Regions from separate parts of the Homo sapiens genome. Here all the other regions are reported to be linked to region 3. Evidence: microRNA targets listed by miRTarBase, many of them from high-throughput screens and not tested one by one. Region 3 holds a microRNA gene; each other region holds the end of a gene's coding sequence.

What was found. The annotated mature microRNA hsa-miR-548e-3p reads AAAAACUGAGACUACUUUUGCA and lies in region 3 at 2,654-2,675, opposite strand. An mRNA with a match to its seed (bases 2 to 7 or 8) in the 3' UTR can be bound and repressed. Matches are read on the target gene's strand: a 7mer-m8 pairs with bases 2 to 8, a 7mer-A1 pairs with bases 2 to 7 and ends in A, and an 8mer does both.
Region 1: the mRNA of DGKE is a reported target of hsa-miR-548e-3p. Seed matches in the 3' UTR shown: 7mer-A1 at 1,746-1,752.
Region 2: the mRNA of EML6 is a reported target of hsa-miR-548e-3p. Seed matches in the 3' UTR shown: 7mer-A1 at 3,533-3,539 and 7mer-A1 at 3,169-3,175.

Annotation. Positions count from the first base shown.
Region 1 is chr17:56,861,922-56,866,287 of GRCh38, forward strand. DGKE (diacylglycerol kinase epsilon) reads left to right here. Exons shown (of 12, transcript NM_003647.3): 11 at 219-330; 12 at 691-4,366. The coding sequence ends at 870. The region is part of intron 1 of LOC124904037 (a long non-coding RNA gene); the gene reads right to left. Among named protein-coding and RNA genes, the nearest start is that of MIR3614, 27 kb to the right of the region's middle.
Region 2 is chr2:54,969,473-54,973,838 of GRCh38, reverse strand. It overlaps EML6 (EMAP like 6), which reads right to left. Exons shown (of 42, transcript NM_001039753.4): 42 at 1,814-3,768. The coding sequence ends at 3,744. It overlaps RTN4 (reticulon 4), which reads left to right. Exons shown (of 9, transcript NM_020532.5): 7 at 1-18; 8 at 218-276; 9 at 641-1,650. The coding sequence ends at 683. Among named protein-coding and RNA genes, the nearest start is that of RTN4, 79 kb to the left of the region's middle.
Region 3 is chr10:110,987,653-110,991,652 of GRCh38, reverse strand. It overlaps MIR548E (microRNA 548e), which reads right to left and starts at 2,727; the gene lies at 2,640-2,727. The region is part of intron 3 of SHOC2 (SHOC2 leucine rich repeat scaffold protein); the gene reads right to left.

The DNA.
Region 1 (4,366 bases), not on the chromosome of region 3:
TGTACATTTGTGGTCTGTTTTTTTATGTCACTATTTTATTTAAAGCAATCTCTTGTTTATAGACTTTAACATTTTTCCTCAAATTTTCTTTTTTGTGTATCTCATTAGTTATAAATATTTTTTAAGTTGATGGTCCAACTGTGTTAAAAAGTAATTGCTCTAGCATAACTGATTTTTTATTGCATCATATAATCCATATTTTCTTTTTCCAATTTTAGGCATGACGATGGTCTGCTGGAAGTCGTTGGAGTATATGGGTCTTTCCACTGTGCTCAGATTCAAGTAAAACTGGCTAATCCTTTTCGAATAGGACAGGCACATACAGTGAGGGTAGGTGAAATATAGCTGTAACAGGCTAATTTGTCCCAATCCAATTCTAAGCTGTTGATATGTAAAATATACATGCTATACTTTTCTTTAAACAGTGGTTTATGGCTCATGCAGCTGGTCACTGTACACTAGCGGCTAGAGTGGGATGAGGAAGAAACAGAAACATGGCTCAAGATCCATGAGATAAAACGTTCACTTGAAAAAAGAATTCCTTAATCAATGAATAAAAACATATTCAGATTAATATTTTCTAAAAATGAAATGCATAAGGGTTAAGGGATTGTGGATGGTATTATTAAGGAAGACCTTTCTAAATTTGGGGGGACTGACTTTTAAACATTATTTGTTCCCTAATATCAGCTGATTTTGAAGTGCTCCATGATGCCAATGCAGGTGGATGGGGAGCCTTGGGCCCAAGGGCCCTGCACTGTCACCATAACTCACAAGACACATGCAATGATGTTATATTTCTCTGGAGAACAAACAGATGATGACATCTCTAGTACTTCGGATCAAGAAGATATAAAGGCGACTGAATAGATGGATGAGGGAGTGAAAACTTTGCATAGAATCCTCACGCAAGTAGATACATGTTCATCCAAAAGTATTAATAGAAATTCTCTATCAGCTATTCAGTCTTAATTTCACTAGTAGTATAATGGGTATACATTTTTGTAAATAGCATCCCCAAACCAGCCAGCCTTCAGTTATTTACAAATGTTTGTTCTTTTTTCAGCAAAATACTTCAAATGAATAGTATTAACTTACAAAAAGTCACAAAAACTTACATGAGAGTGAAAATTTGTTATGACTGTTTTGAGAGTGGGACTCACTCTGAAGTATGTGCTGTCTCATGTCTTATTTTTGAACCATGCATATGATGGACACACAATGGATGGACACATTATATCTCCAACAAGGTGTGGGTGGAAAGATCAAATTAACCTGCTTTTTTGAAAGGAAATGATTACTGTCAAACCAGCATGGTTAATTGTGAGCATCCTCCTGCAGCATGCCCCTTAAGATTTTCTACAACCCAAACCAAGTGTATGTATTGATTTCTAGGAACCCCCAAAAGGAGAATAGTAAAAAAAGATCATACTTAAAATTTGTATTACAATTTTTATTTTAGGAACTTATTCAGACACGTAAATGTTGTTTAATTCTGTAGGTAACCATTTGAGCTGCAATTCAGGATCTTTTTTATAACACCAGTGTAGCCAAAAGAGAAACAGATAAGTGAATTGGTAAGAAATAAGATTCAGAGCACTTGGGATTGTAAGTTATAGGTTCTGAGCTGAACTGTTTATCAGCCGCTCTTTTTATTAAAAGACAGTGTCAACACTTCAAAAAACGTGCTTAAAGGAGACAACGGTGAGATTAATTGCTTAGAAAAAGCTCAAGGCTGACTGATAAGTTTTAAAAATTTGGTGGTCTTGTAGTATTTTGAAATACAGTAGTCTTTTAACAGAATTTCCCCTTAGGGAGGTAAGTGGACAGAAATCTTTGCTAAAATGTTTATATCATATTTATTTTAAAATGAGAGAGATATATTTTTAAATTATTTATTATTTACCTTGTGGTATGGTACCTGTGTTTAGTGTTTACGTTCTGTAGCTTTATTTAATAAGTTAAATTGATCACATAAATTCTGCTAGTCACAATCAGATAGAAATTTAGTCTATTAATTAAAATTCTAATTTAATTCTCCTGACAGAAATCTAGATATTCTTATTCTTCACAAATATTCCTCATTGTATTGAAAAATGAAGGAGGGCATGAAAAGCACTAGGGAACTACTTTTGGATAACTGAAAGCTTTGTTTCATTGTTTTATTTGCCCCTCAATTGCCACAAACTTACTGAAGGGCTAGTTTCATGGTTCCCATTAGAGGGTGCTTGTTCGCTGCTGTTGACCAGCCCAAGGGTCGTGACCCACAGGTCGGCTGACCCAGAGGGCATCCAGCCTGGTGTTTTTCTGACACATGGCCCAGGCTTTGTGGTCTTTCATGACATTAATCTCTGAAAGATCAGAATGTATCCCCCAAAATACCATTAGCTATCTTTGAGGGTCTATTATGAATCTGTCATCCATGAATTGCCATAAACCTAAGTTTGCCTCACCTCAGGCCCAGACCATGTTTTCAAAGAGCAACTTAGTAATGTATACAGTAGTCAGTACATTTTATGAAATACTCTATTTTGCTAAATTAACCTCTTGCAGATCTCCTCAGGTGATCTTAAATTCTAGTCTTGAGAAACTTTGTGAGCAGATCTGTTTTCAGCTTCTTTATATACCTTTCATGGTAAGTAACCATGGCAGTGAGGATGGCAGAGTTTTGTTTTTTTTTTTTTTAATGGGCCAATCATGTTCTGAGTATTATGAAGTTTATCCTTTCATTCATGATCAAAATTGTTAAAGACATCACATTTTATAAATACACTGTTAAATCCACTTTGCTGTAGGTTATAGTTTACCTGTTATATAATTCGTAGTGCTAATTGTAGTAGAAGCAAATCAATTTAGGATGTTGGAACGAAAATAATCACAATAACTAATACAGCTTTTTAATTGTGAAAACTACAATTAAAAATTATAATTTTAATACCAACCATAATATTACACTGTATTTAGAACAGGCTTATGTAAAATGCCCTCATTTATCTAAATAAGTTGATTTTTTGGTTATTGTAATCTAGTAAGGTTTTTGCATCACTACTGGTCTGTCATGAAGTTTTTCTGCTGGCTTATTCACTTATTTAGACTTCATTTAGGGAAGCTATTTCAGAATACCATCTCATAAAATGTATCATTATCTTGTTTTTGCAAAATTCACTTACTTTTTGGGCACATTTACCCAGCATTTCAAATAAGTGTATAGGCATGTGCCTTGTTTAAGTACAATTTATAAGACTTCATGTTTGCAAGTTACATATTAGGGTAGTGATTGTTTATATTACCAGGGATTCTACACTTTACCAAAAAAAATTGCCATAAGATTTTCCTGTTCCATTTTAAATTGTCTTGATATTTAAAAAAATAACTTCTACATTCTCAGGAAGAAATACATGAAGTAAATCATATCTCCATGTCTGTTTCCAGATTTCTCTAATCTTTTTACTATCCCAATACATTCCTAATTCCTATAAACGTAGTGGCTTAAATACTGAATACCTGGCAGCTCTTAAAGATCCCTTAGGCAGATGATGATAATTTTCAGTGTTTCGTCATGTTTAATAGAAATCAAACTGACTTGTGTTTTAAAATACAAGTTGTCTGCTAGTAAAGTTACATGATTTAGGTGTGTTTTAGGTTTTCTGCAACAATTAGCTGTGAACCCCTAATGTAGCTAAGTTTATACAAATTTTATAATCAAAATTATTTATTTTTATTTTTTTAGAGTATGTCAAAAACATATAGTGTTTGCTTTGTGAAATACATTTGCTTAGAGTTATAAAATATACTGTGACTCAGAAATTGTAAAGTCAGTTTGCGTTGTAAAAATGAATACTACCAGCATGTCAAAAGAAAAATAATTTACATTTGTAATATAAAGTAAAATTGTATTTAATATATTTATTGAATTTTAAATTTGCACTAACTTGAAAACTTTAAAGGTTATACTAATTTAATGATTAATGTGGACCCAAATACATAATTTGGCCAAAAAAGTCATTAGAATGGGTAATGGTTTTGTGTGGTTTTCCTTCAAAATGATAATATTGAAGCAAGAACCAGCATTTTATATTGATAATTTTTTTAATATTTCTACCCAGTTGAGGACAGTGGAATATAAGTAGATATATTTAAAATATCTAGATATTTAAAAAGAAAGAAAAGGTTGTTTATCCCAATCTGAATTCATTCTCAGCAACAAGACAGAAAAGGTGGTTTGGGTTTTGCTTTTAAACAGTGTCCCCCTGTCTTTTTCAATTTTTCCCTTGAAGCCTTTCTCTTGTTCTTCAGAGTACGCGCTGCAGGCTATCTGCAGCATCAGAATGCCTGGGCAGGCTGTTGAAAGTATGGATTCCTGAGC
Region 2 (4,366 bases), not on the chromosome of region 3:
ATTTATGAACGGCATCAGGTAATTTCCTAACTAACTGCTGACTTCAGAATAGAGCACTCACTCTATTACATGGGATTTACGGATGTATTAGTGCCCATTTTCAATGTCTTACAAAAATGAGAAGTGTGATGGTTTCTTAAGCCTTTAGCTTGACACATAGTAGTGGTTAATAAGATTCTTTAGCAACGGTAATAATTCCTTTATACCTCTCTTTCAGGCACAGATAGATCATTATCTAGGACTTGCAAATAAGAATGTTAAAGATGCTATGGCTAAGTAAGTATTTAAAATCTGCAGTGTTTTTACTAGGATAAGGTGTGCTGGATTGTGAGAACAGTATTTTCATATTGCAGGCATAATGAGTAACAAATCTCTATCAGACCTTAAGTGTGACTTCAGAGTTGCCAAAAGATTGTTTTTCTAACATTTGGACCATTCGTTTCTGGGTTTATTATGTGTTTAAGGCTTTGTTTAAATCTAATTCATGAGGCCAAGGTGGCAAAATTATAGCTTAGAATTAGGCAGCTTTAAGGATTTCATTTATTGTATTAGCTGAATAACATACAAGTAGTTCTTGGAAGATGGTATTTTAAGCAGCAGCAAACAAAACTGATATTTACATTGACTTTTTCATTTTCAGAATCCAAGCAAAAATCCCTGGATTGAAGCGCAAAGCTGAATGAAAACGCCCAAAATAATTAGTAGGAGTTCATCTTTAAAGGGGATATTCATTTGATTATACGGGGGAGGGTCAGGGAAGAACGAACCTTGACGTTGCAGTGCAGTTTCACAGATCGTTGTTAGATCTTTATTTTTAGCCATGCACTGTTGTGAGGAAAAATTACCTGTCTTGACTGCCATGTGTTCATCATCTTAAGTATTGTAAGCTGCTATGTATGGATTTAAACCGTAATCATATCTTTTTCCTATCTATCTGAGGCACTGGTGGAATAAAAAACCTGTATATTTTACTTTGTTGCAGATAGTCTTGCCGCATCTTGGCAAGTTGCAGAGATGGTGGAGCTAGAAAAAAAAAAAAAAAAGCCCTTTTCAGTTTGTGCACTGTGTATGGTCCGTGTAGATTGATGCAGATTTTCTGAAATGAAATGTTTGTTTAGACGAGATCATACCGGTAAAGCAGGAATGACAAAGCTTGCTTTTCTGGTATGTTCTAGGTGTATTGTGACTTTTACTGTTATATTAATTGCCAATATAAGTAAATATAGATTATATATGTATAGTGTTTCACAAAGCTTAGACCTTTACCTTCCAGCCACCCCACAGTGCTTGATATTTCAGAGTCAGTCATTGGTTATACATGTGTAGTTCCAAAGCACATAAGCTAGAAGAAGAAATATTTCTAGGAGCACTACCATCTGTTTTCAACATGAAATGCCACACACATAGAACTCCAACATCAATTTCATTGCACAGACTGACTGTAGTTAATTTTGTCACAGAATCTATGGACTGAATCTAATGCTTCCAAAAATGTTGTTTGTTTGCAAATATCAAACATTGTTATGCAAGAAATTATTAATTACAAAATGAAGATTTATACCATTGTGGTTTAAGCTGTACTGAACTAAATCTGTGGAATGCATTGTGAACTGTAAAAGCAAAGTATCAATAAAGCTTATAGACTTAAAATATGCTTTGGTATTTTCATTTCATGAAATTGCAGCAGATTAAAAATGCACACAGTGGGTAAACTGCTTCAACCAGCGAATGGTAGCTTGTGCTTTTAGAAGGGTTTTTTTCAGCTGATGGTGCAGCTGTTTGTTTGTTTACTGTGGAAACAAAAGTCAACAAATGTGTTTACATAATCAAATTTTATTTGACACATAAAATGTTTAAGTGATGTGTTTTATACTTTGAAAATAAATTCATGCACCAATGTTTTAACTCACATATATCATACAGTGCAGGATTTATGAACATACATAAAATCAAAATCATACCATATAAACGTTTACAAATAAGTTTTTCATGACACACGGACACTATTGCTCTTTAAATATGGTTGTACATGTCATCATTAATCGATTCATTGTTCTTCCACATGGTTATTTCAATGCAAGATCCGATCAGCATGAAGAGTCTAGTACAAGATAGGCAGACATGGTTATCACTCTGCATCACCAGTCACATGGTTACAGAAAACAGAATTGGGACTGCATAGGGACTCTACTGCGGGCCCAACAACCTATTAGTGGATTGATGTAAGGCATTAGTAAATTGGCATATAAAAATAGCTTAATGAGTGATCTAATCCATTTAGAATGCTGAAGCACTTCTGTGGTAAATGTTAGTCTATTCTACAATTGAAAATGCCTCATTTTACCTTTTCTCTAAACTGACAAATGCAAGTAGCCAGTAACTGTAGGTCTAGAATTTTCGTTCACTGACCAGAAGGACTAATAGGCGTCTATGTGCTCAGAACCACCAGTCCCGCACCAACTCTCCTTTCAGTGAGCACTGTCAGCCACATCCTGTAGTCACTGGTCAGCTACATGGAAAGTGTGACTGAGGGGCTTACGGATGGCTTCTGGTAAAGATTGTCCAAGTCATATTCCGTCATACAACCAACTCCAAGGAACTCTAACTCACTTTATAATTTTGATTTACCAGCTATTCCTTGGGTTTACAATTTGTTCTGCAGATAATTTTTTTATAATCTGGACTTGACCTATATAGTTCGCCTGAAGCAATCAAATGAAGTCACCTCAACTCCACTCAGGGTGGTACACCAAGGTGCAGCCTTGGGTTACCCTCATTTATCTTAAGATTTAACGAGATAAGTCAGCTCATTCTCATAGACCTTCCTGAGCCTTTTTCCCCTTCCATTTTGTAGTAGAAGTTTGTTTAACTTGAATTCTATTTTGGATTTTGTGGGTTTGGCATGAAACACAATGAAAACCCATAATTCTACCCTGTCCCGAACTTCAATTCCTTTGCTGCTCACCTTCCCATAAGCAGGTAACCGATGTCTTTCATTTAGGAAGCCTTGGCGTGAACACAGGACAAGGGTGACACACTGAATCTGCTAAGGGTCCTGCAGCCCTCCTCAGCTTTGAGGTTTTAGCACCATATGGAGAAAGGAGAAATTGGTGGGAGGTGAGACAGCAGCCCACACAACTGGAAACTTTCAAAGGCACTTAATGGATATAAAACTCTGCAAATGAAACATTTAAAAATTAAGTTTCTCAACTCCTTTATACATGGCTCATTTGGTTTTGAAAGCTAAACTGGAGAACAGAGGCTAGCGATATTTCTAGTACTTCGGTGCATCTAACTTAGGCTGTCTTGTTCAACTTATTTGTAAAAATGAACATTCTTGAAGTATATAGAAACAATAGCAAAACATCTTTGTAAAAGTTTTGATGCAAATTAAAAGCTACATATTGGTTAGGGTAACCGAGGCTTCAAAATTCGTCAGCGGGCTACATTATCAGATAGGATTTCTTTGTCAATGTAGTTAGTATGTATACTGTTTAGTCTCAGGAACAGAGGCAAGCAGTCTTTAACATTTTAAAACTTGACCTTCCTTCGTGGCATCACGGTTTTGGAGAGTCCAGATTATGGGAGCAGTTGTGTAACTTCTGCAGCGTTTTGAGCTTGTGCATCCGGGGCAGCATGGTAGGCATTTCCCAACGGCTGGTGGCAAGGAGGCACCTCAGCATGGCCTCTGCAGTTGCTGGCTGGTAGCAGCAGCAGCAATAACATAAGAGGCTTCTGGCATTTTACAGACATCGCCACACAAATACACTGAAAAGGCAGATCAAACAGTCATTTTGCATAGCTGGACATCATACTTGTGTCAAGTGGCAAAAAACAATCTTGCCAAGTGCTCAAAAGTCAAGCTCGGGTGATGTATTGAACATTTTGACTTCAAAAGGTAAACCAGGGATCTTGCCACCAAATTAAGATCTATTGCTTTTCTTAAAAGGTCTGTTTTTTTCAGTTGAGTTCTGTTTGGTTCTTTCAGCAGTTTGAATGTCTGTGCTAAATGTTGGTCCGTGAGGACTTCTGGCACTTTGATATCACACTCTCTCCTGTTACTATTGAAAAGGTTTATCACCTCCACTTGAGTCAGAGAGCCCTTTTGAGTGTTTAGCACAGAACCAGGGATCACAGCATGCTCCCATGCCTACAAAGGCCTGCAAGCCCTGCACGGTTAAGGCCACTTCTTTTTTATATTAAAACAAGTCTGTATCCCCTGCATTGGGGTGACCAATTCATTTACGTCTTTTACTCCTAGCTTGTTCACAATTGGGTTGGTGCTGCTTTGAAGGGGTGTTAGCACTTCACAGGGAGCTGCTGGCGGTACTATCTCAAGGGCTATAAGTGCCAGAAGTAGCCAGCA
Region 3 (4,000 bases):
AAGGATGGAGAAAGATAAAGTAATTATTTTAATAAACATGGTAATCGATAAATGACTACAATATCATAAAAAGTTTCAATAAATATTACTAATTTACTTTGCCATTTACTCAGAGTAACAGCTGTACTATACTTGGTGACAACCATCAAAGCATATAAAAGTAAATGCAATGTTATTTAAAATTTTCTTGTTGTTAATGTTTCAGTTCTCATTGATTTCCAATTTGTAATACTGTAATCTGGCCCTATAGAATAAGCTAGAGGTGAGGCATATGTGTTATTCTAGGATAACATCTAAACTACAAGAGATTAATAATAAAATCAAATGTTTTCATATTAGTAAACACACTTAAAACACAGAAGAATTACCTCCAATAGGACACTAATCCTACTTACTAGAAGACTGTATCATATATCACCACCTATGCTTTCTCTGTTTACCAGGATTATTCATTTCAGTACTTTAATCGCATGCCCCTTTGACTGTTATTTAACAAGTTTGAGATACAGACACATATATAAAAATATTAAATAATAAAATATTGTTAGACTATTTGAGACAGAGAAGAAGGCCGAATGAAAATCATGCTATATATATCTATCTGATCAGTTGAAGGAGCAGGCAAAGTTACACAGATATTTAGGAGAAAAGAGTTCTAAACAGAGAGATGGGAAGCACAAAGATCTCAAGGCTAGAATTTACCTGATATGTTCAAGAAACAATAAAATGTCTAGCATGTTTAATATCCTAAGATATACATAGTGACTAAACATCAATGAGAGGGATAAGAAAATCACTTGATAACATTTCAAGTATCTTAAATTTTGGTTCTCCTGTCTGATTTGCAGTAGAGTAAAGCAACATTTTGTTGTGTTTTTTTTTGTTTTTTGTTTTTGTTTTTTTTGAGCAGTAGCAAGATTTATTGCAAAGAGCGAAAGAACAAAGCTTCCACAGTGTGGAAGGGGACCCGAGTGGGTTGCCAATGCTGGCTCCGGCAGCCTGCTTTTATTCTCTTATCTGGCCCCACCCACGTCCTGCTGATTGGTAGAGCCGAGTGGCCTGTTTTGTCAGGGCGCTGATTGGTGCGTTTACAATCCCTGAGCTAGATACAAAGGTTCTCCACGTCCCCATCAGATTAGTTAGATACAGAGTTTCGACACACAGGTTCTCCAAGGCCCCACCAGAGCAGCTAGATACAGAGTGTTGATTGGTGCACTCACAAACCTTGAGCTAAACACAGGGTGCTGATTGGTGTATTTACAATCCCTGAGCTAGACATAAAGGTTCTCCACGTCCCCACCAGAGCACCTAGATACAGAGTGTCCATTGGTGCACTCACAAACCTTGAGCTAAACACAGGGTGCTGATTGGTGTATTTACAATCCCTGAGCTAGACATAAAGACTCTCCACGTCCCCACCAGACTCAGGAGCCCAGCTGGCTTCACCTAGTGGATCCCGCACCAGGGCTGCAGGTGGAGCTGCCTGCCAGTCCCGCGCCATGCGCTCGCCTTCCTCAGCCCTTGAACATTTTGTTTTTCTAAGACTAAGAATTTGGATCTTATAAAGTCATTTTTTGAAAGTGCTTTTATGTGACATTCCACTGAAAGTGATTATGATGAGATTATGCATTATTCTTTCTTTTCTTCTTTACCATTCCAATTAGTTTGTTGTTCATACTAACCAAACTTACAGATACATATTTTAATGTAAAAACATACAACACAAACTAAATATGTCACTGTGTGACATATTTACTATACTGAACACTATACTGAATATACACTGAATATATATGGCAAACAGAAAGCATATATACCCTGAATATATACTGAATATACTGAAGAACACTGTACTGAAATAAAACTTAAACCTATATGTTGAATTGGCCCAGAGTATACTAGGAAAATATGATCCTGAAAAATAAACACTGATAAATAAAATATAGTTCTTAAAATTTCAGAAATCTAGAAATAATACTTTGGCTGGCCAAGCAAAATGACTAAGTCACTTATCATGGGGAAAAAAGAAAATGGACTGGCCTCTTATTTTTGTACATTCAATTCCAGAAGAAGGTAGAACTACCTGTTAACAAGTTCTACTGAGATCCTCAAGGAAAGGCAGTTTGATCCAATTATTTTGTATCTATCTAAATTGTTCTTAAATTATAAAAGCTACACACATGCAAGAACTATAGGAGAATACTGCTCCCATGAACCATTTTTGAGCAAATGACTACCAACCAGATTGACTTCAGCCAACCAAGAAATGACTGAGGCAACTATGGCAACAGGACTGCTGATAAACATTAAGACTAAAACAAAAATGGGAATTAGTACAACAAGGTATGTTACCTATGCTGACAATGCAGTTAACAAAAATAAGAAGAAAAAGAGACTCCTCCAGAAACGGCAGAAAGTAGAATAAACTCATTGATTGCCTCATCTGTACCATGATTCATATTTATGGATCACTCCACCCAACAAAAGTAGAATACACATTAAACTGCACATGGAATACTTTTACCATGATGAAAGAATTCAAGTCCTATCAGGAATGTTCTTGACCACAATGGAGGTAAATTAGAAGTCAATAATATATCATGGAAAATTGTCAAGCTTTTGGGAACAAAATAACATTCTTCTATCAGGTTGGTGCAAAAGTAGTCTCAGTTTTTGCCTTTAAAAGTAATAGCAAAAACCGCGATTGCTTTTGTACCAACCTAATAAAGCCATAGATCACAGAAGAAACAAAAGGGTAAATTAGAAAAAACTTTTAAAAGGAAAATACAACATATCAGAATTTGTGGGATGCTGCTGAAGCAGTACTTAAGGGGAAATTTACAGTGCTAACTGTCTTTATGAGAATAATAGAAAGGTCTCAAATTAATGACCTCAAGCTGCCACCATAAGAAACTAGAAAAAGAACAAATAAAACTCAAAGTAAGCTGGTGAAATAAAGTTCAAAATGGAAATCAATGAAATAAAAACCAGAGAAACAATAGGGAAAATCAATAAAACTAAGAGAGGATCAACACAATTGATATACTTCTAACCAGAATGATTAAGAAAAAGAGAAAACATACAAATTCTTGATATCAGGAATTAGAGAGGTGGCATTACTATAGATTCTACAGATATTAAAATAATAAGAATGTTATGAACAACTTAATGCTTTTAAATGTGATAATTGAAATAAAACAAATATATTCCTTGAAAGACCCATATGACCAAGTTTGCTGAAGAAGAAAGTGATAACCTGAATAGCCCTATATTTATTAAAGTAATTGAAATTGCTTTAAAACAAATTCCCATAAAGAAAAGTCCTGTCCTGGATGGCTTCACTGGTGAATTTTATCAAATATTAAAGGAAGAAATAATGCAATTTCATACAAACTATTCCAAAAATTGAACATACGTAGCCAGCATTACCCTGAAACCAAAAACCAGGTAAAGATAGGTTGTATAACATTACATGTGAATTTATTATTTATTCAAAACAAATACATCTAATATTTAAAACTACCACCAGAATGTAACTTTTTAATTTATTTCTTCTTGGTAAGCAATTTTGGTCTTATTATCCGGGTTTTTATCAAGTTCAGGGAAACATTATAAAATTATATTTTATAACTATCACCACTATTTGGCCTTCTGGAACGTCTAGTCCTATCTGCCATGACTTTTTAACTTTTCACTTCTTTTGTATACATTTCTTTTTGATCTAGATTCTAGGGGACTTTTAATTTATCCTAGAGATCATCACTTTGGTCTCTGGCTGTGTTCATTTGGTTATATGGAATTTTCCATTAAATTTGATTTGGCAAACATATCTCTAAGAATTGTATTTTATTCTTTGTTCCCTTTTTGTATCAGCCTCATCATGTTTTAAACATGCAGTTTAAATATCCTATGTTTTTTTTCTCCTAAGGTCACATCTCCTTGTTCATCTTGGCCATTTCAATAGATTTTAAAGAGAAAAAAAAGCATGAAATAATTGTGC